Linked DNA regions of Homo sapiens: all the other regions are linked to region 2. The links come from fine-mapping of genetic effects on gene expression. A gene starts in region 2. Each other region holds a variant in brackets. All regions are shown on one strand. Distances are from middle to middle.

What was found.
Region 1: its variant is fine-mapped to the expression of NPHP3 in tibial nerve (GTEx, PIP 0.98).
Region 3: its variant is fine-mapped to the expression of NPHP3 in unexposed skin (GTEx, PIP 0.94).

What each region holds. Positions count from the first base shown.
Region 1 is chr3:132,694,876-132,699,875 of GRCh38, reverse strand. It overlaps NPHP3 (nephrocystin 3), which reads left to right. Exons shown (of 27, transcript NM_153240.5): 13 at 426-523; 14 at 2,514-2,616; 15 at 3,063-3,145; 16 at 4,911-5,000. It overlaps NPHP3-ACAD11 (NPHP3-ACAD11 readthrough (NMD candidate)), which reads left to right. Exons shown (of 45, transcript NR_037804.1): 13 at 2,514-2,616; 14 at 3,063-3,145; 15 at 4,911-5,000. Among named protein-coding and RNA genes, the nearest start is that of NPHP3-AS1, 24 kb to the left of the region's middle. The variant A/GAGTA (reference allele first, on the strand shown) is at 2,350.
Region 2 is chr3:132,719,588-132,724,587 of GRCh38, reverse strand. It overlaps NPHP3 (nephrocystin 3), which reads left to right and starts at 2,179. Exons shown (of 27, transcript NM_153240.5): 1 at 2,179-2,625; 2 at 4,758-4,883. The coding sequence starts at 2,233. NPHP3-ACAD11 (NPHP3-ACAD11 readthrough (NMD candidate)) reads left to right here and starts at 2,129. Exons shown (of 45, transcript NR_037804.1): 1 at 2,129-2,625; 2 at 4,758-4,883. NPHP3-AS1 (NPHP3 antisense RNA 1) reads right to left here and starts at 2,838. Exons shown (of 11, transcript NR_002811.2): 1 at 2,209-2,838. RefSeq lists an enhancer at 1,233-1,422 and silencers at 1,663-2,172, 2,273-2,522.
Region 3 is chr3:132,824,085-132,830,812 of GRCh38, reverse strand. NPHP3-AS1 (NPHP3 antisense RNA 1) reads right to left here. Exons shown (of 11, transcript NR_002811.2): 9 at 2,807-2,867. Among named protein-coding and RNA genes, the nearest start is that of NPHP3-ACAD11, 100 kb to the right of the region's middle. The variant C/T (reference allele first, on the strand shown) is at 3,680.

The sequences.
Region 1 (5,000 bases), 25 kb after region 2:
GATGTAAATTCAGTAATAGCTAGAGCAGGCATTTATATGTTTGTGAGAAGAAAATATGATGTTATTTTTTATATTTCTGCTTTATTTCTAGGGAGGTAACATGGATTAAAAAAATATATCGTATGCCCACAGACACTAATATCTTATTAAGAAAGACCAACTGAATTTACACAATTAACAAAGACTATTCGTTCTGACATATTTTTAGGGCCTTGACATTTCCTGACGTGTCCAGAGTTCAGATTGGTGATAATAATGTTTTGCTACTTGTTCTTTTAAAATTCTAAAATAAATCACCCCAAAATAAGATTTTTATCCTTAATAAGATAAACTTAATGAGAATTTCATTTTATTTGGGGAGCTATTATTGGATTGTTTTGAAATATTTTGATTAATAGATTGAATTTTGTTTTTATATTTTTAAGCAAGTTGAAAAACACATGAAATGGCTGATAGATCCACTGCCAGTGAATGTAAGAGTAATTGTTTCTGTGAATGTAGAAACATGCCCTCCAGCATGGAGGTACGATGCCAACTTTAGTTCTTTCAGAGTACATGAAATGTTTTAAGTACAAACAAGGAAAGATTTTTAATATGCATTTATGGTTTTCACATTTTTTATGTAACTTGCAGTGAGGATGGGGAGAAGTGGGTGAATTTATGAAAAAAAAATACAATCTATAGAATTGTATAGATGGTGTGAACCTGTAATCCCAGCACTTTGGGATGCCAAGGCGGGTGGATCACTTGAGGCCAGCAGTTTGAGACCAGCCTGGCCAACATGGTGAAACCCTGTCTCTACAAAAAATACAAAAATTAGCTGGGCATGGTGGCGCATGCCTGTAATCCCAGCTACTTGGAAGGCTGAGGCAGGAGAATCGCTTGAACCTGGGAGGCAGAGGTTGCAGTGAGCAGAGATCATGCCACTGCACTTCAGCCTGGGTGACAGAGGGAGACCCTGTCTCCAAAAAAAAAGGGATTTGGGGGGAGGTTAGATAGATCTGGGATGCAAGGGAAAAGAAAGAGCCAGGATGATTCTGGAGTTTCTGACTTGAGAAATTAATTAATGTAGCTTCATGAACTGAAATAGGAAACACAAAGGACAGGCAGGTTGTGGGGAAAAGGTGATGAGTTTAGTTTTTAATCATGGTTAGTTTGAGTAGCTCCACGTAACGATGTCTAGTAGGCAGTTAAATTTATAGATGAGGAAAATAGAGAAAGGGCCGGGCTGGGAATAATAGACACCTGTTATTTTGAAATGCAAGCTCACTTTAATGGTTCTTTAAAAAGTAGTAGAGTGGCCGGGCATGGTAGCTCACATCTGTAATCCCAGCACTTCGGGAGGCCAGGGCGGGTGGATCACCTGAGGTCAGGAGTTCAAGACCAACCTGGCCAACATGGTGAAACCCATCTCTACCAAAAATACAAAAATTAGCCAGGCATGGTGGCGGGTGCTTGTAATCCCATCTACTCGGGAGGCTAAGGCAGAAGAATCGCTTGAACCCAGGAGGTGGAGGTTGTAGTGAGCTGAGATTGCACCACTGCACTGCAGCCTGGACGACAAGAGTGAAACTCCCATCTCAAAAAACAAACAAATGGCTGGGCGCAGTGGCTCATGCCTGTAATCCCAACACTTTGGGAGGCCGAGGCGGGTGGATCGGGAGGTCAGGAGTTCAAGACCAGCCTGGCCAACAGTGAAACCCCGCCTCTACTAGAAATATAAAAAATTAGCCAGGCGTGGTGGTGGGCGCCTGTAATCCTAGCTACTTGGGAGGCTGAGACAGGAGAATCACTTGAACCTGGGAGGCAGAGGTTGCAGTGAGCCGAGATGGCACTACTGCACACCAGCCTAGGCAACAGTACGAGACTCTGCCTCAAAAAAAAAAAAAAGTAGAGCAATTGGATCCCATGGAGCAGTGTTTCTCAACCTGTTTTTGCTCCTATAAGGAGCCATTTTAGACATTTTATTTGTAATTGCCTCCCCCAAGAAATTTTAATACCACACACATATTGTATATCAGCTTGTGTATATAGATATATGTGTCTATGTGTACTTTATACATAAAAAGAGTAAGTTTTTTCACTCCCCCACAAATGCAATTTTCAGTACCATATCAAGAATGTATATTGTAATAGTTAAATTTCAGTTGCATTACAAGTGCTTGTGGACAATAATTGTGTCTGATGCCACTCCTCATAGATACTCATACCTATGCTTAGTTTTACTGATAGTATGGAACATAGAACTAGAAATGTTTTACCATGTAACTATCTAATGTATATACTGTTTATTTTATAACACTGTTTGTTGTGATTCATTGCTCAAAGTAATGATACACATATTAGAAT[A/GAGTA]AGATATATTAATTACTTAATATGATTAATAGACATTAGTTTTGCTTATTTTACAAAAGCAGTATAAAGTGTTAATTCCTGTGGTGGATTTTAAATTGTGTTATGGGTAATTACAGTTCTTGTTGTATTATTAAAATTTCATTTTTCTTTTCTTTACATAAAAGGTTGTGGCCTACACTTCATCTTGATCCCTTAAGTCCAAAAGATGCAAAATCTATTATAATTGCAGAATGCCACTCTGTAGACATTAAATTGAGTAAAGAGCAGGTGTGTATTTTTCATTTTGATGCAATCTTTTACTCTCTCATCTTTCCTATGAAACATCTTATGTGAGACTTAAAATTCAATATAGGGGATCTGTTATAAGGAAAACTGGAGTTTAGTAATTACTTTGGTAAATGTATTGCCTCTTAAACTAATGACAGGTAGAAAAGAAGCAATAAAAAGATTTTGGTCTTAAGGTTGACTTTAGTATATAATATTAAGCAGGTATTTTAAAAGCAAAAGAGCATTTTCATACTGGCCATATCTGTGGTCTGCAGTTGGAAGGCTGCCCACAGCCGAGGAGCCACCACTGCATGTTGTGATGTCACGGATGGCAGCAATAGTGTTATTTCTGTCGGGGTACTTGTTGATGGCTGGGTAGTAAAGACCGCTTAATTCCAGGGTGGTTTTTGTATTTCTGTTTTGTTTTTCTTGGTAAACTGGTGCAGGAGAAGAAGCTAGAACGACACTGTCGTTCTGCTACAACCTGCAATGCCCTTTATGTCACCCTTTTCGGCAAAATGATCGCGCGGTGAGTGGTGATTATTTTACATGATCTTCTGCATGTTTTGTGTTTGCTGCAGACCCTTTCTCACCCTGCAAAACTGAGAACTGATCACTACACCAGTCTGTTGAGCCACTCAGATTTTATTTGAATAGTGATACTAACATTTGTGAGAACATGGCTTACAGGTGCCTACTGTCCATGATTGTCAGAACTTGATAGATTTGTCTAATTTTCTTCACACTAATCTGTTCCCTATTGGAGGTTGCAAAAGAAAGCCATCCTCACCCTCATTTGTGGCCCCTAGCTTTGGGAAAGTGAAGGAAACAACTGAGGGTTACAATATTATTTCAGGTATCTTTGAATATCAGGAGGTAGATATATGGATATGAATTTTTAATTGTCTCTGTTCTCAAGTCCTGATAAACTTTTTAATTATAAAAATAGTTCTATTTTAGATATCCATTAGTAATCTGCCTTTAGATAAGCATTAGAGTATCACTACTTTTATTTCCTCAGTATAGCTTTACCCTATTCTATCTATTCTCAACCGTTAGAATGTTTTACTACTTTTATTTCTTCTTCAGTATAGCATCACTCTACTTTGTCTTTTCTCAATCTGAGGTAAAAAAAAAAAAGATTAATACATTTTTTGTTATTCATTGCAATAGATGGCAATTCTAGCACACATATTTCCAGACACCGAATCTAGTACTTCTTGTCTCTTTATTCCATGTTCTCATCTTGAGAACCAAATTTGAAATAAAAAAATCTTCTGAAACTTTACATTGCCCATGATATTTCATCTTTGTTTTTGTTTTTGAGACAGTGTCTCACTCTCTGTTGCCCAGGCTGGAGAGCAGAGGCTTGATCTCGGCTCACTGTAACTTCTGCCTCCCAGACTCAAGCGATCCTCCCACCTCAGCCTCTTGAGTAGCTGGGACTACAAGAGCACACCACCATGCCTGGCTTATTTTTGTATTTTTAGTATAAGCGGGGTTTTGCCATGATTGCCAGGCTGGTCTTGAACTCCTGGGCTCAAGCAATCCACCTGCTTAGCCTCCCAAAGTGCTGGGATTACAGCATGTGAGCCACTGTACCCAGCCTGCCTGTGATATTTCCACTGTCCTTTTCCACTGTTAGTTGTAGCAACACATCTGGCCTCTGTGAACATCAGTGATACAATGAGTATGATTCAAGAGTGTGAGTAATTTTTCATACATTTAATAATGTTCATTGAAAGTATTTTACTGTTTTTATTTTTGAAAGTACCTATTTTAAAGAGACTATGGACCCTTTGTTTTTTCTCTTTGTACATCTTTATATTATTTTTAAAAACTGGTAAATATTGTGTAATCTTTTAAAACATACCCCCCTATTTAATGATTTTCTTTAGCCTTGTGTTTTCAAAATTCTGGCTCCACACAAATTTAATTTGCATGGCTAACTAACAATACTTATCATCGTTTCCCTGCTTCCTGTATGTAGGTGGCATGCTTCTGGATAATAAGAACCGTGTCTGACTCATTTTTATGTTCCATAATGCATAGTAATTGCTTAACAAATAATAGATTTCAGCATGTTTATTGCACTGAATTAAATTATATATAGTAAAATAAACCCAATGACTCTAGCAGCCCCATAAAACTACCACTTTCCTTTATCATGTTTTATTGAATTTGTTATTGGTTGCAGTACAAAAAATAGAGTTCACGTTGTTTTTAATCGATCTCAAAATTTTCACAGATGTTGGCAATCTGTAAGAAATTAAATCTCTTCTCGATTCCAACAGTGCTGGGAGAGCAGGCAATTTAGATAAAATCCTTCATCAGTGTTTCCAGTGTCAAGATACTCTTTCATTATATAGACTTGTTCTGCACTC
Region 2 (5,000 bases):
CAGTAACGCAGGGCCCAAAACTCAAAAGGGCCCCATACTTGGCTTAATGCTCTGCTGTAGCCATCTTGAAAATATTTATAATTTTTGAATAAGGGGCATTACATATTCATTTTTCACTGGGTCCCACAAATTGTGTAGCTGTCTTAGCTGTCTTTTCTATGGGAGGACTATTAAAAAAAAATGTGGCCATCTTTAGTAAGTTATAAGCCACCTGCCAAATATTTTATTCTCACTATATTTCTGTATTAAAAGTTATTCTTTCAAAATGCAGACTGAAGTACGTGGGTTAAATTCAGCATGAAGAAAAACAGGTTATGAGGTTAGAAATAATGTCTTTTTTTTTTTTTTAAAGACGTAGTCTCGCTCTGTCGCCCAGGCTGGAGTGCAGTGGCGCCATCTCGGCTGCAAGCTTCGCCTCCCAGGTTCACGCCATTCTGCTGCCTCAGCCTCCCGAGTAGCTGGGACTACAGGCGCCTGCCACCACGCCTGGCTAATTTTTTTGTATTTTTAGTAGAGACGGGGTTTCACCGTGTTAGCCAGGAAGAAATAATGTCATTTTTTAGGATTAAGAAATTTGGTCACTTTGGCATTGACCAATAGTAATCTAAGATCAGTACGCAAGTAGGGTGGAGAAATGTGGATTAGAGGCATGTCACTGGATAGAAATGACGTGGGGAAAGGAGAGATGCATGCTTCAGAGCACTCAGTTCCAGACTGTAGAATCTGAATGTACTCCCCAAGCTGTAGGAAGTTAGCATAGTGAGTTTGGTTATTTGTTGGAGAGAATGGGTGATGGCTATTTTATCTTCTTACTCAAGCATAGTTATGGAAGTGTTCAGCTGAGGCCCATTCCAAAGGAGGTACTAAGATGCAAAAATGTTCAAAGGGTTTAGTCAGAAACCTAGTGGATGATCCTTAAACCCCTGATCCACATGGAGAATTCAAAAATTTGAAGTTAGAAATCAGAACGGATTTGAAAAGGTAGAAAGTTCTTAAGGTACTGTGATGGTGGAAATATTTCCCTTTATCTCAGGAGACCACCTGAAGAAATTAGTATATACACTCTGGATTTTGAAGAATGCAAAGGCCTAGTATGACTACTTCCTGAAGAAAATCTAAAGGGTAAGAGAAGAGATGACTAGCCACTTTGATGGAGGGAATGAAGGAGAGACTGGTGTGCGGTCTCCAATGTCCCATGCCGCAATGAGTTAAAAAACTTAACCTTGTCTAAGGATTGTCCCTGGTGGTTTCAGACTGTAAAATCTAAAAGCTCTTTCTTTGCTGGCATTATTCCTTGCTGGTCATTCTATCTACATGCATACTGAGAGAGAGATATCGCGGGAAGCACATAGCAGGCACTCCATAAATTTTTCAGATTTCCCAACTGCTTCCAGAAAGGAGTTTCCGGTCAGGCACGGCGGCAGCGAAAGAAATAGCTGCAGCGTTTGTAGAGCAGCTGGGACCCAGGCCTGTGCTCCCTGTGAGGCACGCCCGCCAGGGAGCCTCGAGCCGGGCGGAGACAACGGAGAGAAGCCCTATGTCGGAGCACCACTCCACCAGCGTTCGGAGCACCCCTCCACCAGCGTCCGGTCCACTGCTGGTCCTGCACAGTCGCCACTCCCCCCATCCTTCCTGCTAGCCCCGCCCTTCTTGCTAGCCCGCCTGGCCCTGTGTGCTTTCTCGACCCACCCCCGTTTGCCCTGCCCCGCCCACATGCCCCGCCCCACTTGCCCGGCCCCTCTTGTTGTCCCGCCTAGCCCTGCTGCCCCGCCCCGTCCCCCTCGCCCATCCCCCCAGTTCCGCTGCCCCGTCCCGTTCCGCTGCCCCGCCCCTCCAGTTGCCCCACCCCCTTCCGCTCTCCCTCCCCGCCCCGTTCCGCTGCCTCGCCTCGTCCGGCTCTCCGGCCCCGCCCCGCCCCGTTCCGCTGCCCCGCCCCGTCCTGCTCCCCCGCCCCGTCCTGCACCCCCGCCCCGCCCAGTTCTGCTGCCCCGCCCCTCCTGTTTCCCCGCCCCATCCCGCTCCCCCGCCTCGCCCCGTTCCGCTGCTCCGCCCCGTCCCGCTGCTCCGCCCAGTCCTGCTCTCCGGCCCCGCTCCATCCCGCTGGCCCGCCCCGTCCCGTTCCGTTCCTCTGCCCCGCCCCGTCCCGTTCCGTTCCTCTGCCCCACCCCGTCCCGTTCCGTTCCGCTGCCCAGTCCTGCTGGTACTCACTAGGTAGTAGCGGCAACGGACGCCATGGGGACCGCCTCGTCGCTCGTGAGCCCCGCGGGCGGGGAAGTGATCGAGGACACGTACGGGGCGGGCGGCGGCGAGGCCTGCGAGATCCCGGTGGAGGTGAAGCCCAAGGCCCGCCTGCTGCGCAACTCGTTCCGCCGAGGCGCGGGGGCGGCAGCAGGGGCCGGGCCCGGGTCGCTGCCCCGCGGGGTGGGCGCGGGCGGGCTGCTGGGGGCCAGCTTCAAGTCCACTGGCTCGTCGGTGCCAGAGCTGGAGTACGCGGCGGCCGAGTACGAGCGGCTCAGGAAGGAGTACGAGATCTTTCGCGTCAGCAAGAACCAGGAGTTGTTGTCCATGGGCCGCCGCGAGGCCAAGCTGGACACGGAGAACAAGCGGCTGCGGGCCGAACTGCAGGTAACGCCGGGCTGGGCCGCGACGCCGGGAGACCCTTGGGAAGCACGGCCGTCCTGCTCCCTCTCCAAACCAAGCGGCTTTGAAAGTTCGGCGGAAACTGCCCATTTTAATTTGAGAGGCCATATTCTCTTCGAGTCTGAAATGATTCCTTAACCCTCCCCTTTTTCTGTCTCTTTTTTTGGAGACAGGGTCTCGCTGCGGTGGCACGATCGCGGCTCACTGCAACCTGGAACTCCTGGGCTCAATGATCCTCCCGCCTCGGCCTCCTAAAGTTCTGGGATTACAGGAGTGAGCCACCGCGCCTGGTCCCCGCTTTTCTATTTCTGGTTTATTCATTGAGGCACCTAGAAGAAATTAGCCGGAAAGTGTCCTGAGGAGGCAAATGCCAATCTCCAGCTCCACTGCCGCCCCCGCGCCCACCCCCTCAGAAGGCTGGTGACATCTGTTGAAGCAACTCAGCAAACTCTTCCTAGGAGTTTCACCCCCCTCCCCACCATAAAAATTTTAAGTGGGTCTCCAAAGTGGGGCTCAAGTGTCGGTTTCTTTGTAAAGTTTCATCGCTCTTGCATTTTAATGGTCTTGACATGAAAATTTCTGGAAGCCTCCTGATCTCACCATGGTTGAAAACCTTCTCTAGATGTAGTCAAATTTCCCTAGTCCATTTGATTAATTTACGCTAAAAGCAATTATTGCATGCCCTCCATGTAGCAGGTCCATTATAATTCAATAAAATAGTATGTAAAGCAGCCGGGCGTGGTGGCTCACGCCTGTAATCCCAACACTTTTCGAGGCCTAGGCGGACGGATCACCTGAGGTCAGGAGTTCGAGATCAGCCTGGCCAACATGGTGAAACCCCGTCTCTACTAAAAATACAAAAATTAGCCGGGCATGGTGGCACGCGCCTGTAATCCCAGCTACTCAGGAGGCTGAGGCAAGAGAATTGCTTGAACCCGGGAGGCGGAGGTTGCAGTGAGCCGAGATTGCACCATTGCACTCCAGCTTGGGTGACAGAGCGAGACTCCGTATCAAAAAAAAAAAAATAGTATAAAGCAAGAGGTTGCTTTTCTGTGAACGAATCTCTAAAACTTTTTGCCCTCAGTTTGGGGCCCCTCTGGTCGTTGTTGTGTCGTTTGTGTACTCTTTACTGTGGGAGAGACTTATAGGCAGCCTAAGAGTTCCCGGAGTCGTTACAGTCGGGGTGAAATAAATACCTCAGACTGATTTTTCTAAAAGAAAAAAAGCCTCCTGTCTTCAAGACTAGACATTCTTCTAGTCAGGTTTTGTTGTTGTTGTTGTTGTTGTTTTTGTTTTTAAACTCCCTCATTAGCTGTTGTGTAATTATTGTCGTTGTCTGGGAAGAAGTCCGTGTAGCAGTTTATCTGTTGTCTTATCAGTTTTCCTACTGGGCAACCTTAATGCACTTGCATGTATAAAATGGACTAGTGCATTTCAAATATCTGATTCAATGTATCCAAGCCACTGCCCAACAGACACCGCACGTTGGAAACAACTGTGAGGTGGGGGTAGAAAAGGCCAAACCAAACAGGGCGGAGTGCAATAAGGGTTGGCAAGTGTCACAGTCACTCATGTCACCAATCCTGATTCCCTGTGAAACATACTGGTTCCTTTCTCACATATCGAGGCATGAAAAAACTTATCCATATTTATTTCATTCATTGTGTCAGACATTTACTGGAGACTTGCAGTGTACCAGGCACTGTGAAGTGCTCAAGGGATGGTGAGATGAATAAGACATAGTGCCAACAGGCACACAGTCTCTTAGAACTACTTATCCTTCAAGTTAAGCCTTACAAAATGTAATTTTTACTATCACAAAGATGGAAAAGGCATAAGGAAGTTTAAGAGCTGATGCAGTGTTTCAAAAAAAGTTAATTTCCATTGAAAGCTTAATGTTGGTCTTTATTTGTGGTAGTTCAAGCATGGTTGCGGTTTTTTTCCATCATGTTTTGAATAAAATGGCAACATGAAGTTCCTGATAATTGGTAAAATAATAAGTAGACTTAAAATTCTAAGATACGTAACATATATATATATATATGTATATATATAAGAATGTAAAATTGAGGAGCAAGACTATTTTTGTTAGGAAATAACAAGGTAAATTATTCTAGGCACTTCAAAAAACGTATCAGAAGATACTTCGAGAAAAAGAAAGTGCTTTAGAAGCGAAATACCAAGCAATGGAGAGAGCAGCAACATTTGAACATGACAGAGATAAAGTTAAAAGGCAATTCAAGGTAAATTCCTTACATTTTTACCCCCAAAGCAACATAGAATAAAATAGTATATTCTAAAAGTATATATAATATATAATGCGATGAATAAATAGAAGTAAGTCATGTAGGATTCAGGAA
Region 3 (6,728 bases), 110 kb before region 2:
TATCCAAGGTGTTCAAAACTCAGATTGTTTGGAAATATTTGGGGATGTTTTGGGTTGCCATAAAGGCCAGGAGGTGCTACCGGTCAGAAGCTAGAGACTTAAAATTTCCTGCAATGTGCAGGATAGTCTTACATGTGAAAGAATTGTCCTGCTTCAATGCCAATTGGTCTTTCATTGAAAATGCTTTCAGTCCAACTATTTATTTTTTTAATTAGAAATTTGTCCCAGGCAAGCTGGGTATGGTGGCTCACACCTGCAATCCCGACACTTTGGAAGGCCTAGGTGGGAGGATCCCCTGAGCCCAGGAGTTTAAGGCCAGCCTGAGCAACAGGGTGAAACCTGGTCTCTATAGAAAAATACAAAAATTAGCCATGTGTGGTGGTGCACACCTGTAGTCCCAGCTACTTGGGAGGCTGCAGTGGGAAGAATCCCTTGAGCCCAAGAAGTCAAGGCTTCAGTGAGCCATGATAGCACCACTGCACTCCAGCATGGGCAATACAGCAAGACCCTGCCTCAAAAAAAAAAAAAAAAAAAAAAAGGAAAAAAGAAAATTTTCCCAAGAGATTAAATGACCTTCTCTGGATCCCACAGCTATCTGAGTTGCTATTAACACCCAGCTCCTTAAACCATGGCATGGGTGGCCAAATGGCATCTGGTAGCAAAATGTATTTGTCCTGTCACTCCCTAAGCTGCACTAGATTTTCATGAGAAGTAAATGAATACATAGCAAAAGATGTTTTCATGCAGTTTACCATCCTTAGGGTAAAATTCCAAGAACAAGTCCTCTACTGTGGGCTTGTGATGCCCCCATATACGGTCACCCGAGAACATATAGAACTCTCTGCACTCCTTTTGCTGCAATGTGATGACAGTGACTGTTTGGCTTGTAAAGCCTAAAATATCTACCACCTGGCCCTTTAAGAAAAAATTTACCAATCTGTGACATCAGTTATTACAATACTGTACAGTTAGTGTGACAACAGAGGTAAGTGCCAAGGGCTATGGGAGCACCGAGGAGTCAGTAATTAGAGGAGTCAAGGAAAGCTTCCCAGGAAAGTAGATATTGAAGGATAAATAGTTGGAAAATGGGTTATATTATAGGCTGAATTGTTTCCTTCCACCAAAGTCCTGTGTTGAAGCCCTAACCCCAGTACCTCAAAATATGACAGTATTTGAAGATAGGGCCAATAAAGAGGTGATTAAGTTAAAACAAGGCCCATAGGGTGGGCCCTAATCCAATCAAACTGGTGTCTTTATAAGAAGAGAAGGTTAGGACACTCAAACGACATGCCAGGGTGCGCGTGCACAGAGTGACGACCATGTGAAGAGGCAGCGAGAGGGCCGTCATTTGTGAGCCAAGGAAAGGAGCTGCAGAGGAAGCCAACTTGGCTGGCACCTAGATCTTAGACTTCTAGCTTCCAGGACTGTGGGAAAATAAATTTCTGTTGCTTAAGCCTCCCATCTGTGGTATTTAGTATTGCAGCCCCAGCAAACCATTACAAGATAGAATAGAAAGATACTTTAGCTCATGGTGAGAGCATCAGGGACTAGAAGAGCTATATTTGCAGCAAATGGCGAGAGTGTGTCATTACAGGATTGTGGATATGGGAGCCTGCGAGGTGGCGGAGAAAATATAAGATGGAAGAGGGACTATAAATGCTGAAGCGTTCATTTAATTCCCTGGGCAGACAGTGAGCTTCTAGAATTTGGTTTCCAGAATGGTAATTCTGATGGTAGATGAGAGAATAGTTCCAGGGAAACCAGTAGGGTAGCTTGAAATTTATGAGCAAGAGATAAGGAGAACCTGATCTATGGTGCTGTCCATGGGATGCAAAAGTGTGAGTGGATTTAAGAAGCATTTCAGAGGAAAAAAACTAAAAAGATTCTGTTGGCCAACTGGAAGCAGAGGAAATGGTACAGCAAAACTCTATCTGCAATAAAATCAAATTTCCACAAGTTCGAAACTGGTCCTTAACCCAACTGGATACTCATTCCTTGCCCAGAGATTACAGAAAACATTCTTTTCAAGGAACAAATAAACTGTACTTAAGTTTTAAGATGGGTAAAAGAAATTAAAAAATGACTTAACCTGAAGGAATTTCTGGATAGAAATTCCTGGATAGAGAAAATTAGGTGTCATAAATTAGAGAAGAGAAAGAGATGGTTTTAATGGATAATTAAAACTAGACAGGACAATGAAAGATAGTTTATCAATACAGCATTAGGAAGTGTTGGAATGATGTGTATATGGGCCTTACAAGGCAAAAGGAGATGGCAGCCTTAAAAATGAGATCTGCTTCTATGAGGATGGGTTAGAAATTTATTACTTTAATATAAATTTTAAATTGATGCCAGAGTTTTAAATAATAACAGCATTGTTACACAAAATGTGGGTGTTTTTATCCTGCATTCGAACGTTTGCTCTTAGTAATGTTCTTTGAAACTGATAACCTAATTATACAGATGTTCATTCTTGTATGTAGTCAAAAAAGAACCAGCCTAGCCACACTCAATGCCTGAAGATACCCTCTTTTTAGAGGCCTTATTTGAAGGGCCTTAGATCCACTGGAATTGAAGATAGCAAAATCTCGGTGATTTAAAACACAAAAAATTTCTTTGCTGATCATGCCTCAAAGCCATTGTGAGTTGTCATTCTCAGTGAGAGATTCAGGCTACTGGAGAAGGCTGATCTTAGAGGTGGTCAGTTGTCATAGTAGAGGAAAAGAGAATGTGGCAAAACATACTTTGACTCTATCCAGATATATTATGAATCATTGGCCAAAGCAAGTCACACAGCCACACTTACCATGGAAGGTGTAGAAAATAAAATCCTACTACGTGCTCTGAAGGAAAGAGTGCTGGAACATCTGTGAAATAGAACATTTGGGAAAAGTTTTAATGAATACCTAGAGCAGACTGTGGCTTAGGTCTTCAAAGCATGACCAGTAACCTTGACTTTGTATTTTTATGTGATGGAACTTACAAACTTTTCACAAAGAGCCTATTTTAAGTGAGCATTTCAGTGAAATGTTAAAAGGTATATAAGAAAGTTCATTTTTTACCGTTCATTTATAATCTTGAAAGTCATAATGCCCAACAAGTATACTAATAATAACAATAGCTAACATTTATTGAATACTGACTACATTTTGGGCACTATTCTAAGCACTTTACTTGTATTACCTAATTTTATCTCACAATAACCTTACTGAGAAGACAAAATTATTATCCCAATTACAGATAAGCAATTTGGGACACATGTAATTTTTCCAAGGCTGTACAGCCAGTACATGGCAAAGTTAAAAATATCAAACCAAGCAAAATATTTCCAGAGTATGGCTGCTTAATCACTTATTATTTGCATAATTAATAGCAAATAAAAATAAATACACATTTAATTGAAAAGGCATTTTAGTAGCTGAGCAAATGAAACCAAATTACAATGATTTGATGTTTCATTTTCATTGCTATCAACATTGCAACATTCACATACTTCTAATACCACTGGATGTTTTTACTGAATTGTTATATCACCTTTATCCATGACATAATCAGGAACTAGATATTAATATTTTAAAACACCACTATTAGATTTAAGTCCTTAATCCATCTCGAGTTGACTTTTGTATAAGGTGAGAGAAAACGATCCAGATTCATTCTTCTTCATGTGGCTTGCCAA[C/T]TATCCTAGCACCATTTGTTGAATAGGGTGTCCTTTCCTCACTTTATGTTTTTGTTTGCTTTATCAAAGATCAGTTAGCTGTAAGTATTTGGCTTTATTTCTGGGTCCTCTATTCTGTTCCATTGGTTTATGTGCCTATTTTTATACTATAGTCACCATGCTGTTTCGGTGACTATGGACTTATAGCATAGTTTGAAGTCAGTTAATATGATGCCTCCAGGTTTGTTCTTTTCACTTTGGCTATGTGGGCTCTTTTTTGGTTCCATATGAATTTTAGGATTGTCTTTTCTAGTTCTGTGAAGAATGACTTGAAACCATAAAAATTCTAGAACATCAAAAAAACCCTTCTAGACATTGGCTTAGGCAAAAACTTCATGACCAAGAACCCCAAAGTAAATGCAACAAAAACAATGATAAATAGATGGGACTTAAACTAAAATGTCTCTAAAAAGCAAAAGAAACAATCAGCAGAGTAAACAGACAACCCACAGAGTGAGAGAAAATCTTCACAATCTATATATCCGACAAAGGACTAATATCCAGACTCTACAGGGAACCCAAACAAATTACCAAGAAAAAAAAAATCCCATCAAAAAATGGGCTAAGGACACGAATAGACAATTCTCAAAAGAAGATATACAAATGGCCAACAAGCATATGGAAAAATGCTCAACATCACTAATGATCAGGGAAATGCAAATCAAAACCACAATGCGATACCACCTCACTCCTTTAAGAATGGCCATAATCGAAAGGTAAAAAAAAAAAAAAAAATAGATGTTGGCAGCAATGCAGTGAAAGGGGAACACTTTCACACTGCTGGGAATGTAAACTAGTACAACCGCTGTGGAAAACAGTGTGGAGATTCCTTAATGAACTAAAAGTAGAACTACCATTTGATGCAGCAATCCCACTGCTGGGTATCTACTCAAAGGAAAAGAAGTCATTGTACGAAAAAGATACTTGCACACACACGTTTATAGCAACACAATTTGCAACTGCAAAAATATGGAACCAGCCCAAATTCCCATCAATCAATGAGTGGATAAAGGAATTGTGAGATATACACACACACACACACACACACACATATACACACACACACACATATATATACACACATACACACACACACACACACACACACACACACATACCATGGAGTACTATTCAGCCATAAAAAGGAATGAAATAATGGCATTCACAGCAACCTGGATGGAGTTGGAGACCATTATTCTAAGTGAAGTAACTCAGGAATGGAAAACCAAACATCGTATCTTCTCACTTATAAGTTGGAGCTAAGCTATGAGGATGCAAAGGCATAAGAATGATATAATGGACTTTGCGGGCTTGGGGAAAAGGGTAAGAGGGGGTGAGGGATAAAAGCCTACAGACTGGGTACAGTGTATCTCAAGCAGCAGGCAATTCCTCGGGTGATGGGTGCACCAAAATCTCAGAAATCACCACTGAAGAACTTATTCACGTAACCAAACACCACCTGTTCCCCAAAAACCTATGGAAATAAAAAATAAATTAGTAAATCGAAAGAAAAAAAAACACTTTTTCTAAAGGAACTCACAGCACCAGAGGCATGTGATATTTTATGTAAAATTTACCTTATGGACTATAAGATTCTAATTCCTTCAGATCAATGTAATGAACTATTTTTGCTAAACTACATACAGCCACCTGTACTCCTCCACTACTTTCTTCTGGAAATCACCCCTTCCCATCCTCTGCCCCACTCTATCAAGATGGTAAACTCTAGACTAATCATCTTGCACAAAGTGTCCCTGGCTTCAGTTAATTGGTCCAGGAGAAGATATGTAGGCCAATCACCTCCCATGACCTGTCCTGGCTAGCAGATTGGTTCTAGGGTAAGCATAGTATCCAAGCTGACCACTTAGGGTCCTTCACCAGGGATTTGGCCATTGAAAACAAGGAAGGTCAATCTCTTCCCAGGTGACTGAAATTATAAATGAAAAACTCAGATAGGTTCTGTTAACAGCCATGTTTCCTTCCCATGTGAGCAGAGTATGCCAGTTGAGAGAGTGAGAAAGAAAGAAATGAAGTACAAAATAAAGATAAAGACACAGAAAGGCAAAAGGTGAAGTCAGAGGTCTGCTGAACATTGGCAGCCCAGCCCCACTTCTGCTCTTGAGATCTTTGAGACACCACAGCATCTCTGCTCCAACCACTGTTACTTGGCTTTCTATCATTTGCAACCAAAATAGTTCAAATTAAGGTAATCAATTTCTCAAATTCTTTATCCAACTGGAGTATTAATTAAAGATTTAAAAAAGAACATATGTGCAATCATGGTTCTTATGATTCACCAAAGGAAATAAAGTGATCAAAACTGAACAGAAGGTTGAAGGGATTTCATGATGGATAATTACTCATATAACGCAACCACAAGAAAAGGGGTAATTCCGAGTTTTCTCTAATTTTTGCCTGTGCTTGCAAAAGGATAAAGAAGCCAGAATCCACATGGTATCTACTGGTTACAAAGAAAGGAGCAATAATAGGATAAAAATAATTTGAAGCATGCTATCAAATGAGTTGAAACCCAATTTCTGCATCCCTGATGGGTGGCCAAATTTTAGGGACACCCCTTTTCCAAAGCTCTCTTGTAACATTCTCATACCTTTGAGATTCTGATAGGATCCTATCTTCCCGGGCTAAAAAATAAATTCCTCCTCAAGACATTGATTATGGAAATGGTCATCAGAATTCCTCTCCATGATCATGAGACACTAGAATTTGGAGGGGGGCCAGCTTCACTTAAGAAGGTGTTTTTCTAACCCCCTTCTCTTTTAACCCCCTAAATTCTCCTGATAGCCATTTTGACAATGTTTCAAACTGAACAGGTTTTTAAAGTAAAAAGAAATCATATTATATCATCATTATCAATTCAATCAATCCTTAATTATTTGATGGGAATAAAATGTGAATTATGTCAAGCAGCAGATAATTACAATTTAACTCTTAAACTAGTTTATTTGCTTTGTGGACTTCCCAAGATCTCTTCCCCACCATCATACCACAG